2 separate regions of the Homo sapiens genome follow, and region 1 is linked to region 2. A link means that fine-mapping ties the variant in region 2 to the expression of a gene that starts in the linked region. Tissue or cell type: lung. Region 2 holds a variant in brackets; the other region holds the start of a gene. All regions are shown on one strand. Distances are from middle to middle.

The links. PIP is the estimated chance that this variant, and not a neighbour inherited with it, causes the effect.
Region 1: LINC00839 starts here. The variant in region 2 is the best candidate, but not a certain one, in a credible set for the expression of LINC00839 in lung (GTEx, PIP 0.69).

The regions. Positions count from the first base shown.
Region 1 is chr10:42,470,447-42,481,399 of GRCh38, reverse strand. It overlaps LINC00839 (long intergenic non-protein coding RNA 839), which reads right to left and starts at 5,909. Exons shown (of 5, transcript NR_026827.1): 1 at 5,520-5,909; 2 at 3,958-4,139. It also overlaps the pseudogene CCNYL2.
Region 2 is chr10:42,102,207-42,113,159 of GRCh38, reverse strand. No RefSeq gene overlaps it. Among named protein-coding and RNA genes, the nearest start is that of LINC00839, 370 kb to the left of the region's middle. RefSeq lists enhancers at 7,960-8,495, 8,496-9,031, 9,032-9,567, 9,568-10,103, 10,104-10,639 and 1 more. The variant G/A (reference allele first, on the strand shown) is at 6,781.

The DNA of each region.
Region 1 (10,953 bases), 370 kb before region 2:
GCGATTCTCATGCCTCAGCCTCCTGAGTAGCTGGGATTACAGGCATGTGCCACGACGCCCAACTAATTGTTTGTATTTTTAGTGGAGACGGGGTTTCTCCACATTGATCAGGCTGGTCTTGAACTCCCAACCTCAGGTGATCTGCTCGCTTCAGCCTCCCAAAGTGCTGGGATTACAGGCATGAGTCATCATGCCCAGCCTTTTTTTTTCTTTTCTTTTCTTTTTTTTTTTTAAGATAGAGTTTCGCTGTTGTTGCCCAGGCTTGTGTGCAATGGTGCGATCTCAGCTCACTGCAACCTCTGCCTCCCAGGTTCAAGCAATTCTCCTGCCTCTGCCTCCCAAGTAGCTGGGATTCCAGGCATGTGCCACTATGCCTGGTTAATTTTTGTATTTTTAGTAGAGATGGGGTTTCTCCATGTTGGTCAAGCTGGTCTCGAACTGACCTCAGGTGATCTGCCTGCCTCAGCCTCCCAAAGTGCTGAGATTACAGGCGTGAGCCACTGTGCCTGGCCTTCATAAGGATTTTTTAAAGCTATTCACAAACTTCGATCACAAATCTACCCACAGAAGTTGTTTTCTCTGGGAAACTACATTCCCATTTGTGCATAACACAGTGTGGACATGGTGGCTGCAGCTCTCCTAGGGCCTACTGTGGAAGCTTCTTCCTCAACAGAGCCTCAGGATTTATCAAAGTAAAAAAAAATAAAAAATTCATATGGTATCTGACTGCTGCCACTGCTGAAGGAATGTGTTATTTCTCAACCACTAATAAAACACAGAAACAGTTTCATTAAAGATGAGTTGTTGCTTTTCTTTTGAGTAAGAATATCATTATTCTAAGACTTCTATAGTTGTTGATCTGATCAAGTAAATATAGTGAAAGTTTTTTTGTTTCAGGTTATGAAGCAAAGCATTTTATTAGATGCACCACAAAGGGCATATTAATAGTAAATGGCAACACAATTTTAGATTATTAGCACTAAACTACATTTTAAAGATAATGTATAATACTTCTACACAAGGCCTGGCACGGTGGCTCAAGCCCGGAATTCTAGCACTTTGGGAGGCTGAGGTGGAAGGATTGCTTGAGCCCAGGAGGTGGAGGCTGTAATGAGCCGAGTTTGCACCACTGCACTCTAGCCTGGGCCACAAAGTGAGACCTTGTCTCAAACAAACAACAAAAACCAAAAACAAAAACTTGCCACGGTCCACGGGGAAAGTGGCCATGGCCATGTCAACAGGACACTTCAAACCCATGGTGTTTGTAGGTTTGAGGCAGCCACAACATCAGATGTGTTTTCTGGGCTCTGCTGCAGGAACGGAGGAGCTGTGCTGGGCCCCTCGCCCCACTCTGAAGTTTGGCCATGGGCTGGATGTGCTTTTGCTTAAGGAAGATGCCACAGGCTCCTTCCTCCTTCCCAGAGACAGACACAGGTCCCCAAAGCCTCCCGTACCTGGCTGAGGAAGCCAGGCAGACATGTTCCCTGTCCAGAAGGAAGGCCCCAGAGCTCCTCAGGATCTGGAAGCTGAGGAGGAATGCAGAATGGTGTCCCTGGTCAACCCCACTGACCTTGGGGTCATCTGATTTGCAGAGCTGATACCCTGGCTTGTGGGGGAAGAAACATTATGTGTATTTTGAGATTTGTGTTTGTTAACACGTATTATTATCAAGGCCAAGGAAGTCTACTGAGAAGGAAGGAGGAGGACACTGAATACCAGCCCAGGCTGCAGTGAGGCCTCCAGTAGCCTGCTGTATGACTTAATAAATGCTGAGTCAATGCAGAGTTGCGCTTGAAATCATCTCCCAAATCACTCCATTTAAATGGATCTTCCTGAGTCTGAGCTTTCTGCTTTTGGGAGGGTTGTTAATAATTTGCCCACATATATTCATAATGAATTTCTTCATAATGAATGAATTCATGTGGTGTGTTACTCCCCTTCATGCCAAATATTTTCTTATGCCACATACCAACTGCAGAGCTATCAGATTAATTTTGAAGACTTCAGTATGTTTCAAAGACAAGGTATCTGACCAATTCTTATGCAATTGTTTTTTTGTTTTTAGATCTCAAGTTATAGTGTTAAACGCATAACATTTTTTCACTAGATTCAAATTACACAAAGCTTTTGGCTCAGAAAATGCTTAATCAGCATTTGATTGCAGAAAGTTAATAAGCTAATATACAGAAAGTTAATAAGGTAACATACAGAAAGTTCAGTTGCTAACTTATCCCATTGCCAGGCCTTTAATTTGGATGGCCACAGTTGACACTCATGAAAGTCACCACTGATGTGGTGCTGGCTGTGTCCTTCCTGCCAATGTTTTGTGGGTATCATCCATGTGGAGACCTCGATTTTCGGTGGAGTGGCTCCTGGCTTTCTCCCCACTGGACATATCCAGCTCAGCTCCCTTCATCTCCTCTTCCAAGATAACAAGTGTGTTGTTTCACCTCTTTCTCCCTACAAAGCCAGACAGCTTACAAAGCAGGGGCTGTTCCATGTACATCTGACTTTCTCACCCAGGTCTGTGTGTGCACATCTGCATGTGCCTGTAAATATGTGTGCACATATGTGCATTCATGTGTATATGTGTGCCTGTATGTGTGTCTGCACATGTATGCCTGTGTACCAAGAACCCTGAGGTCAGTGGCTGAGTATGAGGAACTTGAAGCTCTTACAAGTACTTTGAATACGGAAAGACACATTTGTGCCACATAGGTGCATTAGTCCTTTGCAGTTGCCTAACAGTCCATTTTATTTTAATGCTAATGTTTGTGATTGTGCGGTGGATTCACAGAATGACAGAGTCGGTGCCTCCCCAGCATCATTGCTCTACATGCATGACCATTATCCAGTGTGTGCACATGTGGGCTGCTAGAGTATTTAGAGTAAACTGGGAGTTCATGGAAACCTGGCTGCTCCCAGAAGCACTCAGCACAGCCTAACATGACATAAAGTGTTACAATTAATAAATAAATTAAGCAAAGCTACTGCATACAAGATCATTATCAACCAGATTACTATATACAACTATGAACACAAAGAAATGAAACAACAAAAATCAAACTAGAGAACAAGAACCTATGACAAAAATAAGCCAATAAAGGGCTAACTTACAGATTTTAACAATAAGTCCTTCAATTTAACATAAGGAAAAAAATCCCTAAAGATAAATCAACAAAATAAGAAGAGTATATGAAGAAAAGTAAGGCACAGAGGCCAATAAATATTTTCTAAACTCTACCTCACATGAAACAGGTTACAGCAAGAGGATCTCTGCAGGGCAGGAGTCCAGAAACACTGAAAATCAATCACCTCAACTTCTTTTTTTTTTCTTGAGAAGAAGTTTTGTTCGGTTGCCCAGGCTGGAGTGCAATGGGGCGATCTCGGCTCACTGCAACCTCTACCTCCCAGGTTCAAGCGATTCTCATGCCTCAGCCTCCCGAGTAGCTGGGATTACAGGTGTCTGCCACCACGCCCTGCTAATTTTTGTATTTTTAGTATAGATGGGGGTTTCACTATGTTGGCCAGGCTGGTCTGGAACTCCTGACCACCCACCTTGGCATCCCAAAGTGTTGGGATTACAGGCGTAAGCCAACGTGCCCGGCACCTCAACTTTTTTCTCAAGAATCAAGAAAGAAAAATCAAGTGCAAAGAATACAGGATGAAGGCAATAATAAAGATAACAAACATCAATGAAATGGAAAAAAAAACATAACACAAATAAACCAAGGCTAAAAGTTGTTTTTATAAACAACATAGTTAATAAACCACTAGCAAAACTGATTAAGGAAAAAAGATTAAAGAACACAAGAGACCAGTATCAGAATCAAAACAACAGCCTACGTAACAGTATTATAACAAGATAATCAGAGAATTTTGTGAAATTCTCCCCGGGAGGCCGAGACTCCTGCTTGTCCTTCCTCCGCTGCCGGCACCCCAGACTCCCGGACTCACCCTCGGCTGGGTTGCCGTCTTCTCCTTTCAGAGATGGATGCCACAGGTTCCGGGCTTCTTGGGCTCTGGGAGGACGCGCAGCGGAAGGCGAGGTCGCTATATGAGGCCGCTCCAAAGTCGCCTCGCGCTGTTGCTGCGTCACTGCCTCCAGCCTCCAGCATCCAGGGAGAGTGCAGGCAAAACTGATTAAGGAAAAAAGATGAAAGAACACAAGTGACCAGTATCAGAATCAAAACAACAACTCTACATAACAGTATTATAACAAGATAATCAGAGAATTTTGTGAAATACATATGATCAAAAGTCTGACAACAGAGATCGCAACAGATGCTGAACCCAACTTACTAAAACTGGCACAAAAATAGCATAAAATAAGAACACTCCTATATATATTAAACAAAATTAACTAACTAATTTTAAAAATCCAACAAATCAACAATAATGCTCCACAAGGAAAACACCAGGATCAGACTTTGAAAATGTTCCAAATATTTAAGGAAGAAAAAAATATTGACACTGCTCACTCTCTCTCAAAGAGAAAGACGAAAGGGATGGTTTTTCAATTTGTTTCGAGAAGCCAGCATTACATTAATACACAATCTGATCAGACAATAAAAAACCCAGAAATAATAGATGTTCTGTTTCACAAACACAGATACAAATATTCTAAGAAAAATATTGTTACATGAACTAAACCAAGCAAGAAATTAAAACTGAAATTAAACAACAAAGACCAGAGTAGGAAACAACAACCTACAATAGAAATGAACCAATAAAGGACTAATCTCTAAAGTGTCTTTAAAAATGCTTCACATCAATGTAGGAAAAACACAAATGATCCAAGACAAAAAGAACACTATGAAGGAAAAAAAAGGGGGGTGCATGGGCGAATAAATATTTGCTAAGCCGTACTATGAAGAGGGTTATTTCCAGTTCCAGATGAGAGATACCCACAGGCAGCCCGGGGGGTGGGACCCCAGGGGACAGGACCCCCAGAAGGTGACAGAGATCCTGGCAGTGGGGGACCTGGGGCAGAAGGTGACCCCATCCTCTTCCCGGGCTGCCGCTCAAGGCTCCTGCCGCTCCCGGGCTCCAGCGCCCTCTCACCGGGTCCTGATCAGGGCTCCCTTTCTCACCCCGGGTCAGGCAGAAGGCCCCGGACCCCAGTCCCAAAAGAAACGGAGGCTGCAGGGCTTCCACGCAGGAGAGAAGGGGAGGGCTCCTCTCCGACCCGGGCTCCTTCAGCGCCCACCCCAGCGGACTCTGAGAGGGCGAGGAGGAGGTCGGGGGCTAGGTTCAAGCCGCACTGGGCCCCGGATTCAAGAAAGAAACGGGCTCCTGAGACGCCTGTGCATCAGAGGGGTCCTGGCTCGGCCTGGGATGGGGCTCGGGGAGAGTCAGACGATCTGCCAGGCTCCCAGCCTGAGGCCGCCCTCCCCGGCGCGCAACCCCCGCCCCCACCGCTGGGGCCCTCCTGCCTTTCCCGGCACGTCGCTCCCCGAGAGGCCGAGACTCCTGCCTGTCCTTCCTCTGCCGCCGGTATCCCAGACTCCCGGACTCACGCGCGGCTGGGTTGCCGTCTCCTCCTTTCAGGGCTGGACGCCACAGGTTCCAGGCTTCTTGGGTTCTGGGAGGAGGCGCAGCGGAAGGCGAGGTCGCTGCATGAGGCAGCTCCAAAGTCGCCTCGCCCTCGCGCTGTTGCTGCCTCACTGCCTCCAGCCTCCAGCATCCGGAGAGAGTGCAGGCAGGCGGCACCCAGTTCTCTTCCTTCTCCTCCTGCCCACGGCGGAGCAGCCTCCAGCATCCAGGGAGAGTGCAGGCACGTGGTGCCTGGCCCTCTTCTTTCTCCTCCTGCCCAGGGCGGAGCCATACAGACCACGCTGCCTGGAGCAGGGTGAAATGCGGAAAGCCCACGGAGCAACTATTTATAATGACTTATTTAACTAGATATCCTGTAAGGCATGTTCGGATTGGATGAGAGCCACTGTGCAAAACAACTCTGATTGGATAATATGACCCAATCAGGGCTGGCTGAAATGTTCCTTCTCGTCCTATCAGACTCAGGGTATAGATGCTGGGGTGGGGCAGGAGCCAGCGCCCCCACCGGAATTTGTGGCCACTTCGCCTTTGGCTTTGCCTCCTGCCATGCCCCGCAGGCCCGGAGAATGTGGCCCCAGACTGAAATGAGAAGAAGGTGGCCCCGCCGAGGGTGAGTCTGGGGAGGCTGGAGTGGGGGCTGTGAGGGGGTGCCCGGGCAGGAGTCTCGGCCTCCGCTGGGAGCAGCATATTCAGTGTGTAATGTGAATAACAGGCAAAATAGGTCTTAATTTTTTGTATTATTAGTGACAAAGACTTCCGGTCAACCGCAGGCCGTTAGGAGTTATGCTTTGGGGGAGTTGAGAGTTAAACTTGGATTTTTGACTGTGGGGGGTTAGCATCCATATCCCCCACATTGTTCAAGGGTCAGGTGTATTTTAGAGCACTGGCATGAATCACTTTGGGTCCCACTTGTTGAAAATAGGCATTGACATTTGGAGGCGCCTCCTTGTAGCGAGCAGGTACTACTGATCTCTCTCTTCCACGTACTGACCTTTCCCCAGCTTCTGTGGAACCCTGTTTCCTGGAGTTTACTTACATTCTTTAGTCAATTCTTCTCTAATTCTTCTGAAAGTGGATTTGGAGCAAGGGAAGAGAAACCTGCAGTCTTGGCTGTGTCCAGGTTTTGGTTCTGATTCTTGTGTGCGGTCCACATTCAGATTGGGGTCCTTAATGAAATCCATGGCTTCATCTCTCCTTGCATGCCAGCATCACCCAATCGTGTATAGTTAAACTCGAACTCCCTTTGCACCACAGACTCCCATCTCCAGGTGTTTAACAGGAATTGGATACTGAGCATGTGATATTTTTACCTAAACCTAAATACATCTTTTTTCCTTGTTTCCCTGTGTGCTTGTCCCCTGCCCAACCATCAGCACCACAAATCTAGACGCCTAAAATTCATCCACCTCCTTTGTAATGGCACCCAACCACCACATACAATCCTTTTAAATATCTCAGTTCTGTATTTGGAAAATTACACATTTTAACTGTCTTTTCACTTCATTGCCTTTCCATTACTCTAGGCCCTCATGGTTTCTTCACTGTTAGACTAATGAGCTATGAGTGTTTACCCTCCTAATCCTGCATACTCCTTAAAACCTCAGGCAGAAAATGGAAATTAAACTCGTGGGCATTCAAGGACACCCCCACGATTTTCAGGGTAAAGTTTTTATGGCTTAGCTTAATGCCCAACGACTTTCACATTCCTCTGTTGATAATTTCAATCTCTTGAAATTCTCTCAAACAAAAATAACTAACACTTGTTAACAACTTCGTGTTTCCAGGAAATACTTTAAGCAATTAAAGTCATAATTAAAGTAACATATGCAAAAACCCTATCAGTACTGCTTTTATACTTAAAGTTTTGTTTAAACGTAACCCTGTTTACTTGTTTATGTGTTGTCTATGGCTGCTCTCATGCTGCAGAGGTCGAGTAGAATATGGAATAGATGATGTGGACCACAGCTCCAAACATGTTTACTGTTTTGCCATTTTCAGGAAAAGTTGCTGGATGACTCCTAATCTAGTTGAATGTCTGTGTTACTAGTACAGGGAGATCCTTGCCAGCCAATGTCAGATAAACAAGTTGATTTTATGGACAATTTGTCTCATATATACAAGCACATTTCCAGTTTTTGTAACTGTTAACGATTTATTTTCCCACTTAGTTTGCTCCCTGTAACTTTGAGTGGCTCAACTATTCATCCTGTTTTGATTTCTTCATACCATTTACCCTCCTTCCAGATTATTTAATCAGGTGTTTTTATATTATACCTCAGCAGGGTTCTGAGCTTCTTGTTTGTTTACATGTCTCTATGACCCTCTTTGTTGTTTCATAAATGGATTGATGATATGTAAAATGTACATATTCATGGAAATAGCATTTGTTCCAAGTGACAAAACTATTTATAAAATGAGGATTGTAATTATGTGTGCTATTTGAATTCTGTACATGTATATTTCTGTCCTTGGATTGGAGGCAGAAAAGGGGTGGATTTTGGCTTCAGGCATGGTTTTCTCATCAGAATCCTAAGGTTAGTTCCTCTAGGCATGGGGCTGTAGGATGAATATCCCAAGGTGACAGTCATTGTTGATCCTTAGACCTTATTCTCAATGGGATTTTTAATAAGTGTACTAACATTTTAAGAGCTGTATTAGTTATAAGAAGAAATAGAATCAATTTTTATTTTAAAACGTTTCAATTTGAAATAATTATATACTTCAGAAAAATTGAAATAATATTAACAGTATTTCTGCATACCCTTCACCTATCCCTAATGTTAATGTTTAGCATAATCATAGAACAATTATTAAAGGTGAAAAACTCATACTGAGTCAGTACAGTCAACTAATGTTCAGAGCGCATCTGAATTCTCCCTCCAGTACCCATTTTCTGTCCTCATTGCATGTAGTTCTCATTTTTCGTCAGCCTCCTCCAGTTTGCATAATTTTCTCATTATTTCTTTTGTATTCATGGCCTTGATACTTTTTAAGAATTATATTTATTTTGTAAATATTTTGTAGACTGCACTTCCATTTGGGTTTGTGGAATGTTTCATCATGAAGTAACCTTCCATCTAATCATGAGGCAACATCAGACAAACCCAAATGAAGGTACAGTCTATGAAATAAATACGATTCATGTGGCAGGAATGTCACAGAAGTAATGTTACATACTTCTCAGGGCATTTTATCAGATGGTACGTGATGTTGCCATTACTGGTGATGTTAATCTTGGTACAGTGGGGGCTGCCAAATATTTTTCCCTTTTTAGCTGAAATGTATCATACGGGGAGACATTTAGAGATATACAAATATCCTGTTTGATATTGTATTCTCCCCCATTAGTCCTAGGACCCATGAGTAGATTTTTACCTATAGCAGTTATTACGGTGGAGGTTGCCTAATGATTTCTTTCCATCATTACTTCTGCATTTATTTGGAATGTTCTAGTAGGAAACAGCTGTTGCTTCTACACCACTTATTTATTCAATTATTTATATTATTATGGACTCATGGCTGTTTAGTGTATTCTTTGGATTATGATCCAATGCTAATATTATTTATTTTATTTTCAGGTTGTCTCAACTGTTGGAGTGATCAGACCCAACACCAGGCCATGGGGGCTACTAAGTCTGGCGGAGTCAAAGGAACGAGAAAAGACAAGTTAAAAGAGAAAGTGGGACCATGCAGCCAATGCTAGTGTGGAGGCTGCAAAGGCCCTGAGCTCTGGGATCCCACACTATTTATTGATGATCAAACAAAGAAACAGGCAGTGAAGATGTGGGGGTTGAAAGGAAGCGGTGTATCAAGTGAATGAGCTACAGCTGTGACGGTTTAGCATTTTCTTTGAAACATACGGCTACTTGAGATAAAGGGAGTGCTAGAAGCAAGGAGCCAGCAAGTCTAGACACATTCCAAAGACCACGAGGGGTTTTAATCCTAGACCCTGGACGTGTTCCAAGCCCTGCCTCAGCTTCTCTCCCAACACTCAGCTTTTCTCCCAACACTCAACATTGGCCATTGAGAGCCCCTTCAGGTTGGCACCTGTTTCCTTTTGATATGCCTTCATCATTTTTGAGTTCTTCCTTATTTTTGGCATCACAAAGTGTTCCAGGCTTATCATGCATCTTCTCTGACCTCAGCCCTGAAATTAACCCTATTTCTAGGGAGCCCTGGTTCATCATTAACTGGAGAATGGTACTAGAAACCATGATCTGAGCACTAGGTGTGCTCATTAGCACTGGAATGTCATTTACTCTAGGATCTCTCCATTGACAGAGCTAAGAACTCTATGTTGGTGTACTCACACATGCATTGACATTTGTCTATACCTATCTGACTGTGTACCTACCTACCTACTTATAAAAACTGTGAGTTCTTACTGTTGCCTTTGATTCCACTCTAACACCACTGAGTTTATTCTAGCTTTTCCTTCTTTGTAACTTCTAACAGTGAGAAAATTGGCTTTTATTTTCCAAAATATGTTAACTTGTTTGTTTGTTCCTGGTGTGTGTGTGTGTGTGTGTGTGTGTGTGTGTATGTGTGTGTATAGTAGATTGAGAATTGTGAAACCGTATGCTTGTTGAGAAATAAATTTACTAATTAGAAAATAGTATTTGTGGGACTTTTTTTTGTCTTTAGCTTTCAACAATGAAAATAGTTTTCCAAAGTTACTTAGGCTAGTTATGTTCTTCCCCACCTCTTTCTGCATGCTCATATTATTAGATTTCCTTTTATTAGATTCCCATTTCATTAGGTTCCTTTTTATCCTTTTTAGATATCTTATGCACAAATGTGCAGATAACATGTATAATTTTTAATATCCCCTTCTCATTATATGAAGTGTAGCTTATACCACGTGTGTGTGTGTGTGTATATATATATATATATATACACATTCTCGCTCTGTGTTTTGCATTTTTTCTTTCCACTTAACAATATAGCCTATATTTTAGAACATATTTAAACTTACTTTCATCTTAGCATGCTGTGATAGCAAACAGTTTCATTATTTTTCAGCCATAGAATTTTGTCTATAAAATATTCACTTCAGAAATGTAGAAATAAAGCATCAACATTAACAGAAACATTGTCTTTTTAAGGTTTTTCTTTTTTTTCTTTTCTTTTCTTTTCTTTTTTTTTTTTTTTTGAGATGGAGTCTCATGCTGTCGCCCAGACTGGAGTGCATTGGCGCGATCTCCACTCACTGCAACCTCTGCCTCCTGGGTTCAAGCAATTCTCCTGCCTCAGCTTCCCTGAGTAGCTGGGACTACAGGCGTGTGCCACCACACCTGGCTAATTTTTGTATTTTTAGTAGAGACAGAATTTCACCATGTTGGCCGGGCTGGTCTCGAACTTCTGACCTCAGGTCATCCACCCACCTTGCCCTCCCAA
Region 2 (10,953 bases):
TGCTGCAGCTTTTTCCCTGCCTCGTGGATTTCTGCCCCCGCCCCTGTGGCTTTTCGTCACCGCTGCTGTTGCTTTTTGCCCCCGCCGCTGCGGGTTTCTCCAGCCACGGCTTATTGCCCTCGCTGCCGAGGCTTCTTACCCCCACCGCCGTGGCATTTTGCCCCCATCACCATGGCTTTTTGTGGCTTTTTGCCGCTGCGGCTCTTTGCCTCCGAAGCCACGGCTTTTTGCCCTTGGCGCCATGGCTTTTTGGCCCTGCCGCCACGGCTTTTTGTGGCTTTTTGCCCCCACCACTACGGCTTTTTGCCACCGCGGCTCTTTGCCTCCGAAGCCATGGTTTTTGACCCTGCCGCCATGGGTTTTAGCCGCCGCGGCTTTTTGCCCCCGCCGCCATGACTTTTTGCTCCTGCCGCTGAGGCTTTTTGCCTCTGCAGTTTTTGCCCCCGCCGCCGCTGCTTTTTGCAGCTTTTTGCCCCCCCACCGCCGTGGCTTTTTGACCCCCTGCCACTGCGGCTTTTTGCCCATGCGGCTTTTTCCCCCCGTCGCCCCGGGTTTTTGTTTTTTGCACCCGCTCCCGCTGCTTTTTGCCCCACCACTAGGGCTTTTTGCCGCCGTGGTTTTTTGCCCCCGAAGCAACAGCTTTTTGCCCTCGCCGCCACGGCTTTTTCCCCGTGCCGCCACGGCTTATTGCCCCCACCGCCGCGGGTTTTTGCCGTCACGACTTTTTATCCCCACCGCCGCTGCTTTTTGCAGCCGCGGCTTTTTATTCCCACCGCCATGGCTTTTTGGTCCCACCACCGTGGCTTTTTGCCCTCCCGCAGCCGTGGCTTTTTGCTCCTACCTCTGAGGCTTTTTGCCGCTGCGGTTTTTAACCCTGCCGCTGCTGCTTTTTGCAGATTTTTTCCCCCTGTCGCCACGGCTTTTTGCCCCCGCGTCTTTTTCCCCCTGTCTCAGCGGATTTTTGTGGTTTTTCCGCCCCAGCCGCTGCCGCGGCTTTTTGCCCCCAAAGCCACAGCTTTTTGCCTTCGCCACCGCGGCTTTTTGCCCAGCCGCTACAGCTTTTTGCCCCCGAAGCCACACCTTTTTGCCCTCGCCACCGCGGCTTTTTGCGGCATTTTACTCCCCGCCGCTGTGGCTTTTTGCCCCCGCCACAGCTTCTTATCCCCATCGCCGTGGCTTTTTGCAGTCACAGTTTTATTCCACCACCGCGGCTTTTTGGGCCCACCACCACGGCTTTTTGCCCCCGCCACCATGGCTTTTGGCTCCTGCCACTGAGGCTATTTGCCGCCGCGGTTTTTGCCCCTGCCGCTGCTGCTTTTTGCGGCTTTTTGCCCCCGTGGATTTTTCCCCCCGTCTCCGCGGGTTTTTGTGATTTTTTTGCCCCCGCTCTTGCTGCTTTTTGTCCCCGCCACCGCAGCTTTTTGCCCCACCACTATGGTTTTTTGAGGCTGTGGCTTTTTGCCCCCAAAGCCACAGCTTTTTAGCCTCGCCACCATGGCTTTTTGTGGCTTTTCTCCCCCGCCGCCGCGGCTTTTCGCCCCCGCCACTGAGGCTTTTTGCCGCGGCGGTGTTTGTTCCCGCCGCCGCTGCTTTTTGCCCCCCCGCCGCTGCCGTGGCTTTTTGCCCCCGCCACTACAGCTTTTCGCTGCTGCAGCTTTTTGTCCCTGAAGCCACGGCTTTTTGTCCTCACCGCTGCGGCATTTTGCACCCGCCACCAGGGCTATTTGCCCCCGCTTCCGTGACTTTTTGCCACCGCTGTTTTTTCCCCCGCCACTACGGGATTTTACCCCCACCGCCGCGGGTTTTTGCCGCCGTGGCTTTTTTTAACCGCCACTGCCGCAGCTTTTTGCCCCCTCTGCCGCAGTCTTTTGCCTCCGCCGCCGGGGCTTTTCGCCCCTGTCGCTGCAGCTTTTTTGCACCCTGCCACCACGGCTTTTTCCCCCAGCCGCCGCGGCTTTTTGTGTTTTTTTTGCCCCCGCTCCCGCTGCTTTTTGCCCCCGCCTCAGTGGCTTTTTACCCCCCTCAGTGTGGCTTTTTGTCCCCACCGCCGCGTCTTTCTCCAACTGCCGCCGTGGCTTTTTGCCCCTGCTGCCGCGCTTTTTTGCCGCCGTGGCTTTTTGTCCCCGCTGCCTTTGGAACCTTAATTTCACTTGAAATCTAATTTCCCACTGCCATGCAACCTAACATATTTGTATGTTAGACTCCGGGAATTAGGACATGAACATTTTTGTGAGTCCATTATTTTGTCTACAGCAGACATAATCTATTTACCTGCAGATTAAAGTGTTCTTTATTTTTCTGCCTCTCTTTCTTAATTTTTTTTAAATAATATGAATTGTACTAAAGAGAAAGAAAAAAGGAAGGAAGGAAAGAAGAAAGTAAAGGAGGAAATGAGAGAAGGGAGGGAGGAAGGGAGAAAGGCAGGAAAGGAGAAAAAAGAAAGCAAGAACTCAAGAAAGAAAGAAAAAGTGATGGAAGGAGGAAGGAAAGGAGGAAGAGAGAATGGTAACAGGGAGGAAGGCAAACAAAGAAAATAGAAGGGAGGAAGGAAGGAAAAAGGAAAGGAAGGGAGGCAGGAAGGAAAAAAGGGAGGGAGGAAGGGAGAAAAAAGGAAAGAAAGTGAGAAAGAATAAGAGAAAAGAAGGGAGGGAGAAAGCAAGGGAGGGAGGAGGGAAGGAAGAATAAGGGGAAGGAAAGAAGGAAGGAAGGAGAAAAAAGAAAGGAAAAGAAAGCGGAAAAGAAAGGAAGGAAGAAGGCAAGGGAAGAGAAGAGAAAGGAAGATGGAAAGAAGGAAGGAAGAAAGCAAATATTAGAAATTCTGGGTTTGTTAGAGAATATGCCATACTGTTTTTTTTTTCACTTGAAAGGAAAAAGTATCTGCCATTGAAGATTGGATGTCTTGTTGGTGATATTGTTTTTCTTATCTTCCATATGATTACTGAGTTTGTGCCTAGTCTGTCCATTACTAAAACAAAAGTGTTGAAGTCTGCAAATATAATTTTGGATTTTTCTAGTTTACCTTTGATTTCTTTCCTGTTTTACCTCATGTATTTGGAGGTTCTGTTGTTAGCTGCATATCCTAATTAGTAGGATGTTTACATCTTGAGAATTGATTATTATATTATTTATTATCTCTCATCTCATACTATTTCTTGTTCTGAACTCTGTTGTGTCTAATATCAATGTAGTCCTTCCACAGCTTTATTTTAGTGTTTCCATGATATGGCTTTCTCCATATCTTGATGATAACCTATTTATACCTCTATATATTTGGAGCAAGATATAAAATTTAGAGTTGATTTTTTAAAGATTTTTCAAGATGGAATTCTTATTTCTTTTTGTTCTATTTGACATTCTCTGAGTTTCCTATATCTGAAGTTTGATTTCCTGTCACTTCTTTTAGAATATTTTTGGCAGTTATTTTGAAATATATTTCTTTTGCTCCATTATTTTTTCCTCTTTTCTTTTTGGGATTTCAATTATAACTAAGGTAGGTAATTTCATCTCAGTCTTATGCAGGTACTTTTTCTCAGGGTCTCAGGAATGTAGCCTTCTCACACTTCTGTTCTTTTCCTGGCTGTGTTGGTGAGCTCAGTGATATTCCTCCTTCACCTTCAAGAGCAGTTTTGTTTTGTTTTTCCTGTTTTCATACTCCCAGCGTCAGGAGTATTCTAAGTGTGGCAGTTTTTGTTGCCTTCCCCTACATATTAAGTGGAATATCTTGGTCTATTTGGACTCTTATAACAAAATAACATAAACCGGGTGACTAAAAAACAACAGATATTTCTTTTTTCACACTTCTTGAGGCTGTAAGATCTCAGGTCAAGATGCTCAGAAATTCAGTGTTGATGAGAGCCAATTTCATGGTTCATAGATGGTGCCTTCTTTCTATGTCCTCACATAGTGGAAGGCACACAAGAACTCCATTGAGCTTCTTTTATAAAGACACTAATCCCATTCATAAGGGCTCAGCCCCCAAGACCTCATCACCTCCCAAGTGTTCTGCTCTCCCTGGTCTGTATCATATACAGACTCTCTTGGATTCCTTACCAATTGCTTGACAGATCATAGTGGGTTTGTGGGGAAAAAGATTCAAGATGATGGATCTTTCCCAACTTCTGCAGCTGTCAGCGGTCTCCCAATCTGACCAGCCCCACTTTGTCTTTAGGAATTTATTGATTATTCCAGCTTTACTTGTCATAATGGTGTCTATTTGCATCTGTCCTATGTAAGTGCATCTGTCCTTTTTCTCCTTGCAGTTGCAAGTACTCAGGAGTACACTGTTGTTACTAATTACTCAGTATTGGTTGGTACATTGTCAAAGATCAAAAAACATTTTTAAAGATAAAAAAAAATTCTTGGAAGTTGTGCAATGAAGGGTTAATTCTGCAGACATGGCTTTCCAAAACCTTGCACATTCCAAAGGTCTTCAGGACTGGCCCTTGACAAGCTCCTAGGAGATGATAACCTATGAGCCCTTGGTATATGCTGCCTGATGAGAGTCTTTGTATACCTGAAAATGTAGGTCTTATCAAATAGCTGATGCTAACAACGTGATTTCTTGTGAGCACCTGTTTCTATATGCCTATGACTTTGTGTAATGCTATATTAATATGACCTCTCTTAGGGCATAGGGAGGTTGGGAACTAAGTAGCTAAGTTCAGTCACAGGACGCTCGATGCATATGTGGTGGAATCCTAATAAAAACCCTGGACTCAAGACTGACTGAGCTTCCCTAGTTGGCAACAAGTTCACACAAGTTGTCTCACACCATTGTAAAGAAAATTAGTCAGTGTGAAGTCCCCACTATGAAAGGACACCTGTACGCTCACATCTGGTTTGTCCTGGACTCAACTTTATGTGCTTTTATGCTTCTGATTATTTTAATCTGGTTTCTTTCACGTTAGAAACTGTAACCACAAAAAAAAATCAGCTTTCTTGAGTTACGTGAATCATTAAACCAAAGGGGGACTTGGGGACCCCCAATAAAAAGTACATATATTCTTAAAAAGAAAAAGAAAACTGGCTATAGCAGATATTGCTGATGACGTGTCTTCTATGTCCTGGACTCAATGTGTTCACCTGAAATTCACCTGTTTCAAGCTAACTGAGAGCTCCCCACATCATGCCTTTCTTTCTGATTTTTGGGCCTGCCTGCAAGCTTCTTGAGGCTAACCAGTGCTTCTCAACCACACATAGGAACAAAGAAGCAGTTAGGGGTGGAGAGTTAATGATTCTAAGGCAATCCTTAAGCAATAGGAGATGGGGATTCCAGCATCCCCATCTCTTTGTAAAGTTATTTTAAGACAATCTCCATACCTCCATCATTACTGAGCACATAGCAGTAACTACTCATTCACACTGGCTTCGTGTTCTGTTTCATTTTCTCCACTTCTGTGCTTTCTCACTCAATTTCTGATTAAAGTATCTGACCCCAGATATTTGTTTCATAGTCTATTTTTGAGGGAATCCAGAGCCAAGACAATAACAATGGGGCTTTGCAATGAGGGAGGGTGAGTATAATCATCAGAAGGTTACCTACCTCACTGGGAACATGAAGGCCTGGAGAGCTTGCTGTTTCAATGAGAGAAACATGTTGAATTTCAGTTGAATACCTATATATATATATGTGCAATAAGACGTGCCCTTTACTTATATCAAAGGAAAGTGCTCTTTACCTCTCTTTGTTGTTGTGTTTTTATCACTATTGCCTACACAAGCAGAATATCATACCCAGGATTTAAAGCTCTCTCTGCAGGATTTTCAAGCTCATGTTTTTATCATAAGTCACTCTGCTTCCATGTGTTTTAAATCTAATCCTCATTCCTCTGCTTTTACACCAGAGAATTCATCACTGACTTATTTTTGACTGACCTCCTTATAGAGCTGTCAGGTACACAATTTCTGCTGTGATCTTTATCTTAGAGTTCAGTCATATAGCCTCTCACTAGATATCATTTCCTCTTATCTTTCCTAATAATGAATTGTCAGTTAAAACTCAATATTTTTAAGATTGAGCTTGCCATCTGCACACACACACACACACACCATTATTGTTGTATTCTCATAGCCTTGAAACACTAATGTCACGTTGATGTCTGCCTTTTCTTTCTCTGCTAACTCATTCCTCATTCTTAGATTATTCTAAAAGATTCAATTAGATCAAGTTGGCTAATTATATTTTTAAGATCCTCTCTACCCTTACCAACTTTTCGTTTAACAAAATTTAAAAATTTCTGGCAGGAGACTGTTGAAATCCCCATGGATGACTGTGGTTTTACTATTTTACCTTTCAGTTTTAATAGGTTTTATATTATGTATTTTGAGGTAATGTTATTGTGTGCATACATAATTCTTATTTACATGACTTCTTGGTGTATTTTCCCCTTTGTCATTTTGAAATGTTATTCTTCATCCCCAGTGATATTTCCTGTTCTGATGTCTACTTTGCTCGTCAAAGTTTTAGGGGGTTTTGGTTTGTTTGTTTTTCTATTTTTTGGTTCAAGTAAGTTTCTTACAAATCTGTTCGATTCCATTTGATGATTCCATTTGCTTCAATTCAAGGATTCCACTCGATTCCATTCGATGATGATTCCATTCGAGTCCATTTGATGATTCCATTCGATTCCATTCAATGATGATTCCATTAGAGTCCATTTGATGATTCAATTCGATTCCATTCGATTCCATTTGATGATGATTCCATCAGAGTCCATTCGAGGATTCCATTCGATTCCATACAATGATGTTTCCATTCGAGTCCATTCGATGATTCCATCC[G/A]ATTCCATTCAATGATGACACAATTCGAGTCCCTTCATTGATTCCATTCAGTTCCATTGTATGATGACTGCGTTCGGTTCCATTCGATGATGATTCCAATGGATTCCATTCGATTTCTCAATTCAATTCAATTCCTTGCTGATTCCATTCAACTCCATTAGATGATGACTCCACTAGATTCAATTCGATGATGATTTTATTAGATTCCATTTGATGATGATCCAATTTGATTCTATTCAATGATGATTCTATTCGATTCCATTCAATAATTTCATTTGTTTCCATTCAAAGATTCCATTCGATTCCATTCAATGATGATTCCATTTGAGTCCATTCGATGATTCCATTCGATTCCATGTGATGATCATTCCATCGAGTCCATTCGATGATTCCATTTGATTCCGTTAGATGATGACTGCATTCGGTTCCATTCGATGATGATTCTAACGGACTCCATTCGATGACTCCATTCGATTCCATTCATTGATGATTCCATTCGACTCCATTTGATGATGATTCCATTCAATTCCATTCGATGATGATTCCATTCGATTCCATTCAATGATGATTCCATTGGATTGCATTAGATGACTCCATTGGATTACATTCGATGATGATTCTTTTCGGGTACATTCGATGATTCCATTCTAGTCCATTCGATGATGATTCCATTTGATTATTCCATTCAACTCCATTAGATGTTTTCTTTCGATTCCACTCAATGTTGATTCCATTTGAGTCCATTCGATGATTCCATTCGAGTGCATTCCATGATTTCATTTGATTCCATTTGATTATGATTCCATTCAATTCCATTCAATGATTCCATTTGATTTCATTCGATGATGATTGCATTAGATTCCATTCGATGATTCCATTGGAGTCCATTCAATGATTCCATTCGAGTCCATTAAAGGATTCCATTTGATTCCATTTGATGATGACTCCATGCGAGTCCATTCAATGATGATTCCATTTGATCCCACTCGATGATTCCGTTGGATTCCATTCTTTGTTTTATTTTGATTCGTTTTGATGATGATTCCATTCAGTTTCATTCAATGATCCCATTCGATTCTAATTGATGATGTTTCCATTCGATTCCATTTGAAGAAAATTCCATTTGATTCCATTGATGATGATTCCATTCGATTCTATTCGATGCCGATTGTATTCGATTCCATTCAATGATGATTCTATTCGATTCCATTTGATGATTAAATTCAATTCCATTCTAGGATGATTCCATTCGAGACCATTCGATGATTCCATTCAATTCCATACAATAATGATTCCATTCGAGTCCATTCAATGATTCCATTCAAGTCCACTTGATGATTCCATCTGATTCAATTCAATGAATCCATTCGATTCCATTCTATGATGATTCCATTCATTTCCATCTGATGATGATTCCATTCGACTCCATTCAATGATTCCATTCGATTCCATTTGATGATGATTTCAATCAATTTCATTCGATGATTCCATTCGAATCCATTCGATGATGAGTCCATCCAATTCAATTTCATGATAATTCCATTCGCTTCAATTCGATGGTGTTTCCATTCGAATCCATTCGATGTTGATTCCATTAGTTTCCATTGGATGATGATTCCATTCGAGTCCATTCGATGATGATCACATTGGATTTCATTCCATAATTCTATTCGATTCCATTTGATGATGATTCCATCTGATCCCATTTGATGATTCCATTCGATTCCATTCGATGACGATTCCATTCGTTTCCATCCGATGATGATTCCATTCAATTCCGTTCAATGATTATTCCATTCGAGTCCATTCGATGATTCCATTTGATTCCATTCGATGATGATTGCATTCGAATCCATGGATTATTCCATTCCATTCCATTAGATGATTCCATTCGAGTCCATTCGATGATTCTCTTCGATTCCATTCGATAATTCCGTTTGATTCCGTTAGATGTTGATTCCATTCGAGTCAATTCGATGATAATTCCATTCAATTCTATGCGATGATTCCATTCCATTCCATTTGAAGATGATTCCATTCGAGACCATTCGATGATTGCATTCAATTCATTCGATGACGATTCCATTCAATTCCGTTCAATGTTTCCATTAGATTCCATCTGATGATGATTCCATTCGATTCCATTTGATGATGATTCCATGCGATTCCATTAGATGATGACTCCTTTCATTTCCATTCGATGATGATTCCATTCGTTTCCATCTGATGATGATTCCATTCGATTCCGTTCAATGATTATTGCATTCGAGTCCATTGAATGATTCCATTCGATACCATTCGATGATGATTGCATTCGAGTCCATGGATTATTTGATTCCATTTTATTAGATGATTCCATTCGAGTCATTCAATGACTCTTCGAATCCATTCAATAATTCCGTTTGAATCCGTTTGATGTTGATTCCATTCGAGTCCATTCAATGATAATTCCATTCGATTCTATGCGATGACTCCATTCCTTTCCATTTGAAGATGATTCCATTCGAGACCATTCGATGATTGCATTCAATTCATTCGATGACGATTCGATTCAATTCCGTTCAATTATTCCATTAAATTCCATTCGATAATTCCAATCGAGCCCATTCGATGATTCTATTCGATTGCATTCGATAATTCCATTCGATTGCATTCGATAATTCCATTTGATTCCATTTGAGGATAATTCCATTTGAGTCCATTCGATGATTGTTCCATTCGATTCTATTCGGTGATTCCATTCGATTCCATTTCATAATGATACCATTCGAGACCATTCCATGATTCCATTCAATTCTATTCAATAATGATTCCATTCCAGTACATTCAATGATTCCATTCAAGTCCATTGGATGATTCCATCTGATTCCATTCAATGAATCCATTTGATTCCATTCTATGATGATACCATTCATTTCCATCTGATGATGATTCCATTCGATTCCATTCAATGATTCCATTTGATTCCATTTGATGATGATTTCAATCAATTTCATTCGATGATTTCATTGGAATCCATTCGATGATGAGTCCATCCATTTCAATTTCATGATAATTCCTTTCCTTTCAATTCGATGGTGTTTCCATTCGATTCCATTCGATGTTGATTCCATTAGTTTCCATTGGATGATGATTCCATTCGAGTCCATTCGATGATGATCACATTGGATTGCATTCCATAATTCTACTCGATTCCATTTGATGATGATTCCATCTGATTCCATTTGATGATTCCATTCGATTCCATTCAATGATGATTCCATTCGTATCCATCCGATGATGATTCCAATCGATTCCGTTCAAGGATTATTCCATTCGAGTCCATTCGATGATTCCATTCGATTCCATTGGATGATGATTGCATTCGTGTCCATGGATTATTCCATTCCAATCCATTAGATGATTCCATTCCATTAGATGATTCCATTCGAGTCCATTCGATGATTCTCTTCGATTCCATTCGATAATTCCGTTTGATTCCATTTGATGTTGATTCGATTCGAGTCCATTCGATGATAATTTCATTCGATTTTATGCGATTATTAAATTCCATTCCATTTGAATATGATTGCATTCGAGAACATTCGATGATTGCATTCAATTCATTCGATGACGATTCCATTCAATTCTGTTCAATGATTCCATTAGATTCCAATTGATGATGATTCCATTCGATTTCATTTGATGATGATTCCATGCGATTCCATTAGATGATGACTCCTTTCATTTCCATTCAATGAGGATTCCATTCGGTTCCATTTGATGATGATTCCTTTGAATTCCGTTTGATGACAATTCCATTCAATACCAATTGATGATGGTTATTTCTGATTCCATTGGATGATGATTACTTTTGATTACATTTGATCATGATTCCATTCGATTCCACTCAATGATTCCATTCGATTCCATTCAATGATGATTCCATTCGTATTCATTGTCTATTCCATTCCATTCCATTCGATGATTCCATTCGAGCCCATTCGATGATTCTATTCGATTGCATTCGATAATTCCATTCGATTGCATTCGATAATTCCATTTGATTCCATTTGAGGATAATTCCATTTGAGTCCATTCGATGATTGTTCCATTCGATTCTAGTCGGTGATTCCATTCGATTCCATTTGATAATGATTCCATTCGAGACCATTCAATGATTCCATTCAATTC